Linked DNA regions of Homo sapiens. The protein of the gene in region 1 purifies or fractionates together with the protein of each later gene. This does not show direct contact. Each region holds a gene or a part of one and is shown in the gene's direction. Other genes may lie near its edges.

Evidence for each region.
Region 2: the proteins of GALNT12 (region 1) and RAB3GAP1 purify together in Homo sapiens (affinity purification with mass spectrometry; one large-scale study listed by BioGRID and IntAct). This does not show direct contact.
Region 3: the proteins of GALNT12 (region 1) and OBI1 purify together in Homo sapiens (affinity purification with mass spectrometry; one large-scale study listed by BioGRID and IntAct). This does not show direct contact.

The regions. Positions count from the first base shown.
Region 1 is NC_000009.12:98,842,123-98,845,775, forward strand, and holds part of GALNT12 (polypeptide N-acetylgalactosaminyltransferase 12), read left to right. Parts: intron 1-1,973; coding exon 1,974-2,087; intron 2,088-3,653. UniProt on the Homo sapiens protein: Catalyzes the initial reaction in O-linked oligosaccharide biosynthesis, the transfer of an N-acetyl-D-galactosamine residue to a serine or threonine residue on the protein receptor.
Region 2 is NC_000002.12:135,135,656-135,139,308, forward strand, and holds part of RAB3GAP1 (rab3 GTPase-activating protein catalytic subunit), read left to right. Parts: coding exon 1-277; intron 278-972; exon of another isoform or gene 973-1,100; intron 1,101-3,653. UniProt on the Homo sapiens protein: Catalytic subunit of the Rab3 GTPase-activating (Rab3GAP) complex composed of RAB3GAP1 and RAB3GAP2, which has GTPase-activating protein (GAP) activity towards various Rab3 subfamily members (RAB3A, RAB3B, RAB3C and RAB3D), RAB5A and RAB43, and guanine nucleotide exchange factor (GEF) activity towards RAB18.
Region 3 is NC_000013.11:78,645,569-78,649,221, reverse strand, and holds part of OBI1 (ORC ubiquitin ligase 1), read left to right. Parts: intron 1-3,653. UniProt on the Homo sapiens protein: E3 ubiquitin ligase essential for DNA replication origin activation during S phase.

The DNA.
Region 1 (3,653 bases):
GTGTCATTGTAAACTAATGGGTGTTTAAATAGCCGGTGTGCTTCAATCAATTCATCTTTTCTTCTTTGTATTGTTTTTTGAGACAGGCTTCTATTCTGTCACCCAGGCTGGAGCACAGTGGCACCATTGTAGCTCACTGTAGCCTGGATCACTGGGCTCAAGTGATCCTCCCACCTCAGCTTCTTAAGTAGCTGGGACTACAGGTGAGCACCACCACACCTGGCTAATTTTTTATTTTTATTTTTAGTAAAGACTAAGGTCTCGCTATGTTGCCCAGGCTGGTCTTGAACTCCTGAGCTCAAGCATTTCTCCTGCCAAGGCCTCCCAAAGTGCTGGGATTACAGGTATGAGCCACTGTGCCCAGCCCAATTCATCTTTTTAAAAAATATATGAAAATTGTTTTTGGCCAGTGGGAGTCCCTTTATTTTGGCTTCTGAGGTCTTTGACACCTTACAGTGGCGTTGATAGCCTCCTTGATTCTGGCCAAGTTGTCCCATTCGAGTTTTAAACATTTCCTGCCATTCCTCCCAGAAGCCCTGCTCCTTTGTTGGGTAACGGTATTGGGAGTCAGTCTGGATGCTGGCGGTGCCCGTTGCTATGCGTTGTCATTGCCTCCAGACCATGCAGTTTAACAGAAATATAATGAGAGCCACCGTTGTAACTTAAATTTTTTTAGTAACCATATTAAAAAAAAAGTAAAGTTAATGAAATGTTTAACTCAGTATATCCCAAATAATATCATTTCAACATATAATTAATATAAGTATTTATTCATTGAGGCATTTTACATTCTTTTTTCATACTAAGCCTTGAAATCTGGTGTGAATTTTATACTTATAGCATATCTCAATTTGGATTAGTTACATTTCAAGTGTCCAGTAGCCACAGTGGCCAGTGGCCGCCACATGAAATAGCACAGCTCTAAATTTTTCTCATTGGGCAGAGAAAGGAAATTCGTATTTTTGAGAAACAGATCATGAGCTTATATTAATATCTGAAAATCCAATGTAGTCTTGAAAAATTTTCTTTGATAGCATACTCATATTTCTTTTTTCTTACCCTGAAAATCTTGGTTTTAAACAATATTAACATAATTACTTATTTTCTTTATCCTAAAATATATTGAAAATAGTTTCAAGATAATTAATACAGTACTACAGCTTAGAGTATTATACTGAATGAGGTTTATAATTTCTTTGCAGCTCAGTTTGTTTATAGAATATATTTCATAGGTGGTATTTTCAAACATACCATGCTCTAAAGTGATTTAAATTAATTCTTTTTTTTTTTTTGGTGGTGGGGAGGACAGAGTCTTGCCTTATTGCCCAGGCTGGAGTGCAGTGGCATGATCTCAGCTCACTGCAACCTCCGTCTTCTGGGTTCAAGTGATTCTCCCGCCTCAGTCTCCCAAGTAGCTGGTACTACAGGTGCACCCCACCACACCTGGCTAAGTTTTGTATTTTTAGTAGAGATGCGGTTTTGCCGTGTTGGCCAGGCTGGTCTAGAACTCCTGGCCTCAAGTGATCCACCTGCCTCCGTCTCCCAAAGTGCTGGGATCACAGGCATGAGCCACTGAACCCAGCCTAAAATAATTCTTTCTTTGTGTCTATCGCCTGCTTGATTTAGTTAGCTTAATTAATCTAGTTCGAGGTATCAACCCAGGTATATTTGGACTTGCACAGCAGTAAGGCTGCTACTAATGAGAAAGAAAGAGAGAGGAGCTTTCAGGCCATGAAGAGTTTATCTCTCTGGTCCTCAGGCTTATCAACTTAAAATAGGGGTAAGGATTCTTGCCTGCAGAACAAGGAAGCACTTTTAAAGCTAGAAGGTGCTGTACAGAAAAGACTCTTACCTTTGCGTCTAGCTCTTGAAGCAGGCTCTCCTCTCATGCCAGGTACCCTCCCCAAGCCTTGTGTGGCATCTGTTAGTGTCTATAAATCTGGACTGAAATGCCACATTTATGTTTTATTTAGCTCCAGAACAAAGGACTAACAGACTACTGCTTTGACTATAACCCTCCCGATGAAAACCAGATTGTGGGACACCAGGTCATTCTGTACCTCTGTCATGGGATGGGCCAGAATCAGGTAGGTATGAGCCTCAAAAGAGGAGAAAGCTGTGTGTTTTGTTAAAAAAATTAAATAGTTGAATTTTTTTCTTGTAAAAGTAATATTTGGGAAATATAAAAAGTAGAAGCCTAGGGTGGCCAGACTCAGAGAGACCACTGTTAAAATTAAAATGTGTTTTCTTCCCATCATTTTTTACACATAACACACAGAGATTATGTGTTGTAAATAGTTGTCATAATGTCTGTATGTTTTATATTCCATTATTTCCATTCCCTTCATCTACTTTTCTTATGTTATTAGATACCCCTTGAGAATATCATTCCTAGTGGCCACTTGATATTTCATTTTGTACCTGTATTACTGTTTCGTTAACTGGTTCCCTGCCTCCCTGTCTTTGCAATTATAAATAACCCTGCCTCTAACACCTTGGGTCAGACAGAAGGAAGGATAAAGTAACAGATCTGCATTTCAGATGATTTCCTTAGAATTAATTGTTAAGTGGAATGACAGGTTTAATGCATAGGGCCACCTTGCAAGGTGGTGTTTAGGGACATTGCCTCAGCTGGGGGCCAGGTGTATCTGTCTGGGTGAAGGGCTGTAATTCAGGCTGGGCAGGGGAGATTCAGTCCTGGGGGAGTCTGAAGACCAGAAAAGGACCCCCAGCCCTGGAAAGCAGTTGACAGGACCCTTGGAGGATGCAGGAATGGAGAGAAGTGTTGGTTCTGGGCCTCTGAAGCTTCACCGTACCAAGGAGTTATCAGACACCAGGAAACAAAGGGATAGAGATTCAGATGTTGTTTTTTCCAATCTGGATTCACCCCAATGCCACTTGAATATGAGGCCTTCTTATGGTCAAGAGTAAACTTTCTTAATTCCAACCCCTGCAACCTTAAATTATTTAGGTTTTCAACACTGTTTAGAACAGCCTTCCTCAAAGCTGATGGTACCTGAGTGCTACCATCAGCATCATCTGGGAGCTTGGAAATGCACATTTTCAGACTGATCCCAACACTACCGAATCCCAGACTCTTGTTTTAAGCAGCTTTTCAGGAGATAATGGTGTGACAAGCCCTGCTCTGTGCGCCTTAAGAACACCCACCTGTGTCAGAATTTTTGAAAGGGGCTGGTGGGGTGGGTGGGTGTCTTGTCAAAGATGCAGAAAATGCAGCTTCCTAGGCCCCACCTCACACATAAGGAATCCTTATTCCGTCTCTGGGATGGGGCCAGCAATCAGCATTTTTAACAGTCACTGTAGGTAGTTCCTAGTACACTCAGGTAGGAAAACCATTGTCCGGGAAGAACCAAGTCTTCCCGTTAGCGGTCACATTGTCTGCTTGTGCACAGCACTTTACATCTTCTAGGAACTGTCATATTGGGGGTTTGGGAGGAGAGACTGAGGAAAAGGAGAGGAAGTAGCTAGTCAAGGTCACAGAGAGCCCCCAAGAGCTAGTGCTGCGATGGGTCCATTTCCCTTCCTCCCATCCCACACCAACACAGCATTCAGCACTGCAGGCAGGAGGTGACATGCACCAGCCCTGTCTCCCTGTCTAGCAAGCTGGGCAGGCATGGGAAGGGCCATTTCCT
Region 2 (3,653 bases), on another chromosome or scaffold:
TGGAAAAGCAGGAGACCAGTTGGTGCCAGATAATCTAAAAGAAACAGATAAGGAAAAGGGAGAGGTAGGAAAATCTTGGGATTCCTGGAGTGACAGCGAAGAAGAATTTTTTGAATGCCTAAGTGATACTGAAGAACTTAAAGGAAATGGACAAGAGAGTGGCAAGAAAGGAGGACCTAAGGAGATGGCAAATTTAAGGCCGGAAGGACGGCTCTATCAGCATGGGAAACTTACACTGCTGCATAATGGAGAACCTCTCTACATTCCAGTAACCCAGGTAGGATGCACTAGTTCTTTCCATTTTAATTTATTTTGTGGTTTATATAACTTCATCCTAGTAGAAGATAGTGCTTTGAGTAAGGAAAATTATCCAAAAAGTCTATGTTTAGGCCAGATGCGGTGGCTTACGCCTGTAATCCCAGCACTTTGGGAGGCTGAGGTGGGCAGATCACCTGAGGTCAGGAGTTCAAGATAAGTCTGGCCAACATGGTGAAACCCTGTCTCTACTAAAAGTACAAAAATTAGCTGGGCACAGTGGCGCACACCTGTAGTTCCAGCTACTGGGGAGGCTGAGGCAGGAGAATCATTTGAACCCAGCAGTGGGAGGTTGCAGTGAGCCGAGATTGCACCACTGCACTCCAGCCTGGGCAACAGAGCAAGACTCTTGTCTCAAAAGAAAAAAAAAGTGTTTATGTTTAAAGATAAAGATATAGACTGTTTAAAGAAACTAAAGGTAAGGATTTCCCAATGACATAGATAAATGTGGTCTTGATTTAATCAAGGACCTTTAAAAGATTGGACAAAGTCTATGTTTAAAGATTAAAGAAATCTAAATAAACTTTTGGGGCTTTTAGGTTTGCCATTTCTGTAATTGAGAAATGTTTTGAAGTTTAAGTAGATCACGTCATCATATATAAGGTGATTTATAAACTGAGCAGTGAATGCTCAGATGTTTAAAAAAGAAAATCCAACTGCACTTATGTATGTTTTTGTTTAACTTGTGGACAAAGACTTATGGATAGGTGCAAAAAATAAATCCTCTTTTGCAACCCAGAACTCATTGTTCAGTATGAGTTTTGATACATATAAGAAGGGATATTATGATACCTGAGACAGTTAACTGATGGGAATATTGATAGCCATAAAGGTTGGTCCCAGACCAGGCACAATGGCTCAAGCCTGCAAGCCCCACACCAAGGTGGGAGTATTGCTTGAAGCCAGGAGTTCAAGACCAGCCTGTATAAGAAAGTAACAAACACCTCATCTCCACAAAAATTTAAAAATTAGCTGAGTATTGGGGCATGTGTCTGTAGTTGCAGCTACTCAGGAAGAGGAGGCTGAGGCAAGAGTATTGAGCCCAGGAGTTGGAGGCTGCACTGAGCTTTGATGACACCACTGTACTCCAGCCTGGGTAACAAAGACAGACCCTGTCTCTTAATTAAAAAAGATTGATTCTAGGACTGTGGAAGAGATAGTTAAACAGCATGGGATATGAAGGAAATCCTCAGCAGTATTAATTTTGCATTCCAATTTCATGTTGACTTGATACCTACGATGGCTTTTTGTTTTAAAGGCTTTTATCTTGAGAACATGATGTCTGTAGTTAAAGGTATTGGCGTATTCCACACATCTGTACTATTCTTGAGTATGATCGCTTAGGGTGTCAAATTGAGAACCAGGCAGATCCACCACCTACAGTAAAAAGGACCCTAAAGTAAATTGGTTGAAGAAGTTAGATCCCAAAGATTCTTGGTGAATTTTGAAGTCTTCATCAGTATATCCATATTAAAAGGAGATGACAGAAGCCAAAATAAAAGAATTATGGGCTAACAGGACAGCTGGATTAAAATAAGCATCAGTTTCATTAAAAAGGGCTAACTTGAAGATAAATCTTTTGACTCCAGCTCTTTAGAGGATCTGAAGTGACCTTGATGGACAGTGGAAGAAATCACAACATGGAATTACTTGAACAAAAATTTATTGACTTAAAGAAAAAGAAAAAATCCAAAAATATATAGAGAGAACAAAAGTAAATATCCTTCAATTATATGATTAGCTTTTATCTGTTCAAAAATAGTTTGAAGTCATATACACCATTAGGATGTAGAACAGCAATAACTCAACAACAACAGCAGCAATAGTTGTTTTTAAGGGTTTTGTTTTGTTTTTTTTTTGTTGTTTTTTTTTTGACACAGAGTCTCTCTTTGTCACCCAGGTGGGAGTGCAGTGGCATGACTGTAGCTTACTGCAGCCTTGACCTCCTGGGATCAAGTGATCCTCCCACCGCAGCTTCTCAAGTAGCTGGAACTACAGGTGCATGCCACCATGCCTGGCTAATTTTTCGTGGTTTTTATAGAGGTGGGGTTTTGCCCTGTTGTCCAGGCTTGTCTTAAATTCCTGAACTCAAGCCATCTGCCTGCCTCAGCCTCCCAAAGTGCTAGGATTACAGACATGATCCACTGCACCCGGCCTGAAAACATTCTATTGTGAAAATTGTAATCTAGTAAAAATGAAAGAGGCTCAACGCCTGTAATCCCAACACTTTGGGAGGCCGAGGTGGGGTTGGATTGCTTGAGCCCAGGAATTCAAGACCAGCCTGGGCAACATGGTAAACCCTATTTCTACCAAAAAAAAAAAAAAAAAAATTAGCCGACTGGGGTAGCGTACACCTGTAGTCCCAGCTACTCGGGAGGCTGAGGTAGAAGAATCAATTGAGCCCGGGAGGTTAAGGCTGCAGTGAGCTATGATTGTGTCACTGTTCTCCAGCCTGGGCAACAGAGCAAGACCCTGTCTCAAAAAAATAAAAAGTGAAAGCCACCATCCACTAATTTTGACTTGCATTCCTTGAAGTAACTAACAAGTATTATTGGTTTGGGTTATATTTCTTATAACTGTTTCTCTGCATTGATGTATAATACATATATGTGTGTACATATTAATACATGGTTTTATGGATTTTTTTTTTTTTTTGGAGACAGGATCTCATTCTGTTGCATAGGCTGGAATGCAGTGGCATGATCATGGCTCACTGCAGCCTTGACTTGCTGGGCTCAAGTGATCCTCTGACCTTAGCCTCCTAGGTAGCTGGGACTACAAGTGCTCACCACCATGCCAGGCTGATTTTTTCACTTTTAAAATTTTTGTAAAGATGGAGTCTTGCTATGTTGCCCAAGCTGGTCCTAAACTCCTGACCTCAAGCAATCCTCTGTTTCGGCCTCCCAAAGTGCTGGGATTATAGGCATGAGCCACTGTGCCCAGCCTCAATTTCTTATAAACAATTGGTATTACCAACCATATAAATTTTTGTTAACATGATGGTCAAAAGTAGTATCTCAGTGTTTTAGATTGTATTTTTCTGAATTTTCATGAACCTGAGCATCTTTTAATATGTTCGTTAGCCGTCCTTTCCTGTGAATCGCCTATGATTTTTCTTTTAGGTTGCTCCCCTGTTCTTATTGATTCATATGAATTCTTCATATTTTAGATGTGAATCTACAGTTATATATATTGTATATGTTTTCTGCTAGTCATTTTAAAAACATATGTTCATGTATTTACTTAATTATTGAGTTATAACTTAATACAATAAAGTGTACAGATCTTGGCTGGGCATGGTAGCTCATGCCTGTAATCCCAGCACTTTGGGAGGCCAA
Region 3 (3,653 bases), on another chromosome or scaffold:
CATTCATGAGATCTCCTCCAGTCCTATGGCCTTATATGCTCATGTCTTTTATGGCAGTGACTCAAAACCTGCCTTGTTGAACTTGTCCACTTAAAAATGGGCTTAGCATCACAAATTTAGCATGGCTAAAACAGAATTCTTGATTTTTACCTTGTGCGAAATCTGCTTTTCTTGTCTTTGCCACTTCAGTATATGATAACACCAACTACTGAGTTGCTCAAAACCATTTCATAGATTGGGGAGATAATATTTAACCTTTGTTGTGGGAGCAAATACATGAAAAATACTGATTCTTTTTTTTTTTTTTTGAGATGGCATTTTGCTCTTGTTGCCCAGGCTGGAGTGCAATGGTGCGATCTCAGCTCGCCGCAACCTCTGCCTCCCGGGTTCAAGTGATTCTCCTGCCTCAGCCTCCCAAGTAGCTGGGATTACAGGCACACGCCACTAAGACCTGCTAATTTTGTATTTTTAGTAGAGATGGGGTTTCTCCATGTTGGCCAGGCTGGTCTCAAACTCCTGACCTCAGGTGATCAGCCCGCCTCGGCCTCCCAAAGTGCTGGAATTACAGGAGTGAGCCACCGTGCCCGACCTACTGATTGCTTTTAAATGTGTTTTTTTTATGGAAAGATTGGCAGAGCATCTTGAATCCTCTCATATAATGTGCACGCTTTGCTTTTAAATGTGTTTTTTTTTATGGAAAGATTGGCAGAGCATCTTGAATCCTCTCATATAATGTGCACACTTTTATGTCTTGAGCATTGGCTTTTATCCATTTTCAGATGAGTTTATAACTTATAAAAAATAACTTACTATAAAAGTAGATAACAGTAGATAACTTCCTTTTTTACCTGAGCTTCCTAATTTTGGGGCATATAGTACTTCTAGGAATATTGCAGGGGTGTGTGTGTCTGTGTGTGTGTGTGTGTGTGTGTGTGTGTGTGTTTGGGGGAAGTTACAGGATAGATAAGGCAGTATCTTCTTGGTTTGGGATTTTTGTGCTCTTAAAAGATTTCATGACATAAAGATGAAATTAAAACATATATGAATATATTATGGTCTGGACTTGCAAATCACATGAATTTTTAAGAAAAAAAATAGAACCTGCAAAGAAAGTTCAGGTTTGTCTGCCATTTGAGACTCTGACCAGGAATACTTTATAGATAAGCGTTCACTCCTGGCTGCTGGTAGGACCACTTTGGAAGAAGACTTTGAAACACTATGGTTCATTATTTTTTTTTTTAATGAATCTGTCAAACCAGTTGAAATGAATGCTTAGAATTAAGTTTCTCCAAGAAGTTTAAATCTATTCCAGATTATCTTTGTTTAGTTTTCTTGGGTTAGTGTTCATAATCAAGGGAGAACCAGAATGTTCAGAAAGCCAGACTGAGACCAGAGCTCTTTGTAACGAGACTCAAATGATTACCTGCCCATCATTGAAGGGGGCCAGCCCCTCCACACCTGTGGGTATTTCTCATCAGGTAGGACGAGAGACTGAGAAAAGAAATAAGACACAGAGACAAAGTATAAAGAACAGTGGGCCCAGGAGACTGGTGCTCAGCATATGGAGGACCTGCACCGGCACTGGTCTCTGAGTTCCCTCAGTATTTATTGATTACTGTTTTACTATCTCAGCAAGAGGAATGTAGTAGGAGAGCAGGGTGATAGTGGGGAGAAGGTCAGCAAGAAAACATGTGAGCAAAGGAATCTGTGTCACAAATAAGTTCAAGGGAAGGTACTGTGCCCGGATGTGCACGTAGGCCAGATTTATGCTTCTCTCCACCCAAACATCTCATTGGGGTAAAGAGTAACAGAGCAGCATTGCTGCCAACATGTCTCGCCTCCCGCCACAGGGCGGTTTTTCTCCTATTTCAGAACTGAACAAATGTACAGTAGGGTTTTATACCAAGACATTCCATTCCCGGGGCAGGCAGGAGACAGGCCTTCCTCTTATCTCAACTGCAAGGGGCCTTCCCCTTTTACTAATCCTCCTCAGCACAGACCGTTCACGGGTGTCAGGCTGGGGGACGGTCAGATCTTTTCCATCTCATGAGGCCATATCTCAGGCTATCACATAGGGAGAAACCTTGGACAATACCCGGCTTTCCTGTGCAGAGGTCCCTGCGGCTTTCCGCCGTGCATTGTGCCCCTGGTTACTCCAGAATGGAGAATAGTGATGACTTTTATCAAGCATACTGCCTGTAAACATTTTATTAACAAGGCACATCCTGCACAGCCCTAGATCCCTTAAATCTTGATTCCATGCAACACATGTTTCTGTGAGCACAGGATTGGGGCAAAGTTACAGATTAACAGCTCAGGGCAAAGCAATTGTTCAGGGTACAGGTCAAAATGGAGTTTCTTATGTCTTCCTTTTCTACATAGACACAGTAACAGTCTGATCTCTCTTTCTTTTCCCTACAGTCATGAATAGCTATGCATCTATTAATTCTTTGAGAGGTGGGGGCCCCTTTTAAATTAATGAATACTCAGTAGATTCTTTTAAGGCAGACATAGAGTAGCACAAGCATTTTCTCCGAGAAAAGTGGTTTGTGGTGGTTCTGCCTCTTCATTCTCCCTCTACTTACTCTGCTTTCCCTTGACCTAGTCTTCCAGTTCCTAGTGCAGAAGGGTTCTATACTGTAATTACTATTAGGGAAATATTGAAAATGGCTATGAAATGTTTTGAGTCCCACCGTGAAGAGACCATGTAAATCAAGTGATAAGACTACATTTTTCTGTGCTGTTTTTGTTTGTATTTTTAAATTTGTGCTATTTCAAAAAATATTAAATCATTATTTCCTTCTGACAACTTTCCCAACTAGTTGAATGTTAACACTATCTTAATAGCAGTTAATCATTCAACAGACCTTTGTTGAGTACCTGCTAAGTACCAAGCTATCTTCTAGGCACTAAAGGTTTAGTTATGAATGAGAGTAAAGAAGTTCTTGCTCTCATGGAGTTTCCATTCTGATAAGGGAGATAGACAATAAATATGTAAACACGAGTATAATATCAGGTAATATAAATGCTGTGGAGAAAACCAAAGCAGCTTCTCTTTTCTTTCTTCCTCCTGATAAAACAACTACAAACAGTCAACACACCCAGTTAACCCTGAGCAAGCTACCTAATTTCTTCATGCCTTTGTTTTCTTATTTGTAAAGCATATTTACCCAGTTTACCTCACCAAGTTGTGGTATTTTTAAAAAAAGAGATGGAAAAGGGTTGGGGCGGTGAAAGATGCATGTGAAAGCCGTTTGTAAAATATGACTACAGGCCAGGCGCGGTGGCTCACGCCTGTAATCCCAGCACTTTGGGAGGCCGAGGTGGGCAGATCACCTGAGGTCAAGAGTTTGAGACCAGCCTGACCAATGTGGTGAAACCCCGTCTCTCCTAAAAATAGAAAAATGAGCTGGCGTGGTGGCAGGCGCCTGTAGTCCCAGCTACTCGGGAGGCTGAGACAGGAGAATTGCTTGAACCCAGGAGGCAGAGGTTGCAGTGAGCCTAGATGGTGCCACTGTACTCCAGCCTGGGTAACAGAGCGAGACTCCGTCTCAAAAAAAAATGCTATAAATGTAAGGTATTATTATTTGTGCTTGTTTAAATGGAGCCTGGAGTCAAAGATTTGTGTATTTGGTGTATCTCAGTAATTCTGT